Linked DNA regions of Homo sapiens: region 2 is linked to region 1. Evidence: fine-mapped expression QTL. A gene starts in region 1. The other region holds a variant in brackets. All regions are shown on one strand. Distances are from middle to middle. Region 1 holds the start of FRMD1 (FERM domain containing 1). Region 2 has its middle 29 kb from the start of FRMD1.

The links.
Region 2: its variant is fine-mapped to the expression of FRMD1 in lung (TOPMed, PIP above 0.99).

What each region holds. Positions count from the first base shown.
Region 1 is chr6:168,077,556-168,080,452 of GRCh38, reverse strand. FRMD1 (FERM domain containing 1) reads left to right here and starts at 1,241. Exons shown (of 11, transcript NM_024919.6): 1 at 1,241-1,571. The coding sequence starts at 1,359. RefSeq lists an enhancer at 1,529-2,250.
Region 2 is chr6:168,049,174-168,052,070 of GRCh38, reverse strand. No RefSeq gene overlaps it. Among named protein-coding and RNA genes, the nearest start is that of FRMD1, 29 kb to the left of the region's middle. The variant T/C (reference allele first, on the strand shown) is at 1,250.

The DNA of each region.
Region 1 (2,897 bases):
TTTTTTGCCATTTTTAAAACTTTTTGTGCTCTCAGCTAAAGGGATCCCCACATCTTCCATAGTGAACAGCTCTACGTTTGCTGTGGAGAGAAAAGAGACCGCCACTGCTGTCTTGGGCACACATGTGTGGCCTCGAGGGTCTGGGAAGGGTCTGGATCTGAGCGGAGGGAGGGAGGGAGGGAGCCAGTGTCAGTCCAGGGTCCGGGGGAGGTGAGGCCTAAGCCTCCTAAATCTTCTCAACCCACCGGGCCGGGCCTTAGGGCGGCTGGAGTGCGAATTTCCTAAACCCACCGGGCCAGGCCTTAAGGCGGCTGGAGTGCGAATTTCCTAAGATGAACAACGGCCCGTCCGGAGGTCCAGACCCCTTACTAGAGGAAGGTCCCAGAGCATCCCAGACTCCATGGCAGGAAACTGATGGAGCTCACGGCTGAGGACAGAATTCCACAGCCCAGGCCCGTGGGAACTGCCTCTCCTGACCTGCAGCGCCCAAAGGTCTGGGTGGTCCCAGGGCCAGGCAGGATCCTGGGGTCCCTTCCCCACCTAACACTGTGCCAAAGAGCTCGAAGGCGTTGCTCATCTCTGCTGAGCGGCCTCAGGGGTTCCAGGCCCTGCGGGAGATGTCCCCACCCCTCGTGCTGATGCACCCGGCTGCTGTCCACGCAAGCCAGGACCCCCTTCCTGGCCTTCCAGCTGCTGCAGGCAGGAAGGGATTTGCTGGCCCTGGACAAGGAAGGAAGTGTCCTCAGTTTCCAGCCCCTAAAGGGAGCCAGGGTCCCTCCTGGCAGAACCTGTCCAGGAACGGCAGCTGTGCTGCTTCCTGAGGTCGATAACAGATGCCACAGGAGGTGTGTGGGGCAGGGTGCCCACCCAGGCTGCCTTCCTCCCGCCCTCCTCGTCCTGCCCTGCTGCTGCTCCATCTTCCCCAGCAGCCCTGGCTCTGGCATCTGTGCCCATGGGGTTTGCATAGCCCTCTCCACATTATAGAAGAAGGAGCAGGCACCCTGAGGAGATAGGGGTTGTCAGGTGGAGGAGTTGGGTCCTGTCTCCCCCAGCCTGGTTCTCACGGGGCCCACACCGAGGCTGGCTGCTGAGCTACCCTGCATGGGAGTGCTGCATGGCGGGTGCCCAGCCTGAGGTTGTTTATTTGCATTCCTGGCGCCCTCCACACACCCAGCTATTTGCAGCTCTGACCCTTGTCCTGGCTTGGCCATGCTGGATTCCCAGCCCAGGCTTCCCTCTCAATTCCCTTCCCAGTGAGAAGCTCGGCAAGGGCGGGTCCCGGAAAGCACAGCTGTGATCTGGGAGGTGCTGAGCACCCACCTGCGACCCATGGCGGGGGAGGGCCGAGTAACGACAGCATGGCGGTGCCCCCGAGAGGGAGGGGCATAGACCCCGCCCGGACAAACCCTGACACGTTCCCTCCTTCAGGGGCGCGATGTATGGAACCCAGTCCTGAGAGGCCTGCATGCAGTCAGCAGGAGCCGACCCTGGGAATGGACGCGATGGCCTCGGAACACAGGGATGTCCTCGTGCTGCTGCCCAGCCGGGAGCAACTGCGGCTGGCCGTGGGGGTGAGCAGGGCCCTGGGTGGCCGTGGGGGTAAACAGAGCTGTGGGGGTGAGCAGGGCTCCGGGTGGCCGTGGGGGTGAGCAGGGCCCTGGGTGGCCGTGGGGGTGAGCAGGGCCCTGGATGGCCTTGGGAGTAAACAGAGCCATGGGGGTGAGGAGGGCCCTGGGTGGCCATAGGGGTGAGCAGGGCTGTGGGGGTGAGCAGAGCCATGGGGGTGAGCAGGGCCCTGGGTGGCCGTGGGGGTGAGCAAGGCTGTGGGGGTGAGCAGGGCCGTGAGGGTGAGCAGAGCCGTGGGGGTGAGCAGGGCTGTGAGGGTGAGCAGAGCCGTGGGGGTGAGCAGGGCCGTGGGGGTGAGCAGGGGTATGGGGTGAGCAGAGCCTCAGGACACAGCCTGTGTATGGAAAGTCCCTGGACCGCCTCACTCTGCTTAGGCCAGGTGTCTGTGAGGTGTCAAGGGCCAGCCCTTTCACTGGGCCTGTGAAGGAAACATCCCTGATAGACGTTGCTGTGAGAAATAAGTTTATGGTTCAGCACATCCTTCCCGGGAGGGAGCGCTGAGGGAAGAGCGCCAGGAAGCCGGTTTCCAAGGAGCAGCTCCTGTCTTGTGTTCAGACGTCACCATCTCTATGCTTCTCTATTTCCTTTTCTTTTCCCTTTCCCCCATTTTGTCTACCTGTTTTAGTTGAGTTCATGGCGACAGGAGTTGAGATGGTACTTTCATTTTAATGATTAATGTGGATAATGAAAATGTGGCAATTAAAATGAGAGTGGTTTGTTGAAGAACGATGACTTTCTGCATAGCTAATGTATCATTGCTACCTGGAATGGAGTATGACTTGCTAGTAATATCCTGGTTCAAGTCCCCTGGGAATCTGGGAGTCTCTTGTCTGCTTCGGGATAGAGTTCTGTGTTTACGTAAACGCCCACATCTATGTTTGTGGCAAAATCTTCCCCAAGACTCTGTGTCCCCACCCAGCAACGAGAAGCTGGAGTTGAGCTAATGGGGGATGTCCTGTAGTTTCCTGGGGTCCCCAGCAGTGCCTCGGGCTGGGGGAGGGGTCATAAGAGGACCTGTTGTGGGGAAGATGCTGGGGCTTTGGCCCCCTACCCCATAAGAGCTGGAACTTTTAGGTTTCTTGCACGGAACTTCACGGTAAGATTTTAACTGAGGGATCATGCAGCTAGAACATAGTGAACCGCCTGTTCTGAACAGGTGAATCGTGCTCATCTGCTTTTGACGGAGCTCCCTGAAGTGCCTCTGCAACTCCTGTGGCCCCTGCTGGGCCTGGCAAGTTGGCAACCACAGAGCCACTTCCTATCGGGGTGTG
Region 2 (2,897 bases), 28 kb after region 1:
GCAGTGAGCTGAGATCATGCCACTGCACTGCAGCCTGGGCGATGCAGCAAGACCCTGTCTCAAAAAAAAAACCAAAATGCTCTTTGTTCTCTGAGGAAGGGGCTGCCCAGCAGAAGGTGGTGGGAGGGCATGAGGCTTTGGCAGCCCTGACAGTGCATGGGTGGAGTGCCCACCTGTGGGCTGGGGTGCAGGTCTGGGAGGCCGGCACTGTCCCCCTCGGTGGCAGGTGTGTGAAGTGAGGCATCCAGTGGGGGTCCGGGGCCGCCTCCCCGCAGCCTGTCCTTGTGTTTTGCTTCTCACATGTGATTCCTGGGAGCAGGTGCCCTGGGCTCCCAGAGAGGCTGCAGGACACACACCAGCCCCGGCGTGTCCACTGCACTGTGTCTTCCCTCTGGTCACTACAACAGATCTTCATAGGCCGTGTGGCCTCACTCTGCCCACTCCTCATGATTCTGGAGGCTGGAAGTCCAGGATCGAGGTGCCGGCCAGTTCCATTCCTGGTCCAGGCCCCCTCCCTGGCCGCTACGTCTTCTCAGGGCGGAAGGGGCTTGCGAGCTCCCAGGGCCCCCCTTACAAAGGCACTAATCCCACCCGTGAGCCTCCATCCTCACAACCTCACCGGCTCCCACAGGCACCCCCTCCTAACACCATGGCCTTGCTGGTGAGGATTCCCACACAGACGTCGGGGGGCGCACTCAGCCCACCCTGCATTACACGCTGGGACACATCCGGCTCATCAGTCTCCATCCCGGTCTTGGGATCTTCAAGGCAGGAGCCTCCGGCCTTGACTGCAGTTTCCTCGGTGCCAAAGCAAGACCCCGGTACAGGAGGCAGCCAATAAATGGGCACAGAACAGGTGAAAGAGGGAGGGAGGGCCAGCGGATTGGTGCTCTGTGCACCTCAGTGGGCAGGGCTGGCTTGCTCTGGCTGTGCTAACTGTATACACCTCCTTGTCCACCCAGGCTGAGCCACAGTCCACATGGCTGTGATGGAGCTGAAGCCCCTGCTGAGGGGCAGCTGGCGTCCGGCCACGCCCACCCCACATTGTTCTGGCCCCCCCCACCCCATCCCGGGGCTTGCCCGAGGAGCATGGCTGAAACTACAGAACGTCCCTAGCACTTCAGGGAAACAGATGTAAAATATCCGTGGGTTTTGGCCAAGCTCCACCAAGAAAGGAGAAGGTCCAGGGAGTTATGAGACCCCCAGGGCGTCGGTCACCCAGGTCCTGCCCACTGGGCTAACAGCTCAC[T/C]GGCCTCCCACAGCAACACCCCCAGGGTCAACATTCCACCACCTCGGTCTCCACAAATGAGGTGTCTTCCATTTCTGCTAACTAAGCAAAGTCAGCGACTGGATTACAAGTTCCCAGGCCCAGGGCCTTGGCCACGGCAAGGCTGCTGGGCTCACACTGTGCTGAGGAGGCCACGGCTGCCCCAGCCACACATGGGCCCCCGGCTTGCCCTCCGTGCGCTCCTCCTGCCTCCTCCGACCGCTGCTCTTTCCCCGAGTATCAGGGCTGGGCCAGGCTGTTCTCGAAGTGAGGTCTGCAGTTAATTCGGATTGTGAGACGAGCCTGGTCCCAGACAGTCCTGAGGGAGCATCCAGGGCCGCAAGCCTCACTGCACGGCCTCCCACCACTCCCCAGGGCCTGTTCCTGGCTACGGGGGAGGGGCACAGGCAGCCTGCGGAGGAAAGAGCAGGCAAGAGAGATCTGGGGGAGCCAGGCGTCCCCCCCATATCTGGCCCCCTCCTGCCTCACACTAAACGATGGCCAGGGCGGGACTCTGGGCACGCAGGGACCTCCGGCGAGTACCAACAGGCCCGGGGGCTGGTGTCTGTGACGCTCTAGGACGGCAGCGTGCGCCCCTCACAGGGTAATTATAGTACAGATCACTCGGTCCGGCACAGGCAGACACTTTGTCATTCCCCCTTTGCCACTGTGGACCCTTCAGGCCTCTGCACAGAGGCCGCCCCCGCAGGGAAGCCACCCCGGACCCCGAGATGGGGCCGGGCCCCTGTGGTTCCGCTCTAACAGGCGCCTGTCGCAGCTCTCACACCCTGGGTGGCTGTGGTGTCTTCTGTCCTCCCCATTTGGGCTGTATTCCCCGCACAGTCTCCACGTGCCACCTAAACCTCTGCTGAGTGTTTCCTCCCACAGATCACTGGCAAATCTCTTCAAAACCAGCGGCCTCTGACCCGCTACAAGCTGAAGAGGACAGGGTGTTTCATTCCAGCCTTGCAGTGTCCTCTGGACGAAACCGCATTTGGCACCCAGAGCTGCCCCAGCCCTGGGCCCTGGGCCCCCACCCCACCCCACCCCCACCCTGGCCCCCGGCAATCTTCCCTCCTCGGGGCCTGGGCTCCTTCCCTTCCTCCTCTCCTCTCCTGAGCCTGCCCATGTCACAGGTTCTGTGGCCAAACGGCCTGAGGGAGGCAAGGAGGGGGTGCTGTCCAGGTTCAAGGCGCCCCTCCAAATATGCCTCGTCCAGCTGTGAAGCTCCCAGACATGTCAGCCCTGGGAACATAAACCTCGCACCAGAGTCACGCACTCACCCCATAAGGCGGCTCTCGTGCATGAACAATTGTGCCGTAGGTCAGCGCTGGGGAGGTCTGGTTGTGCTCAGTTTGAGGAAGCCACGAGTGTTTCTGGAGATGCATTTCTCCGTGGCGCTGGGACTGCCCTCCAAAGGTCCACGTCTGTGAGAGAAGGAGCCGGACCACGACTGAGGGGCAGACGCTCCTTCCCGCCCACTCACAGGCGCTGCGAGTCAGTAAGTACGTGGACTTCCACAGCCTCAGCGTCCTTGCTTTTCAAATGGGTTGATCCTAAACACCTTCAGAGGCCCTGAGCCAAGAGGAAGAAGCTAATGAACATGAAGATAGTAACCCCAGAGCAGAGC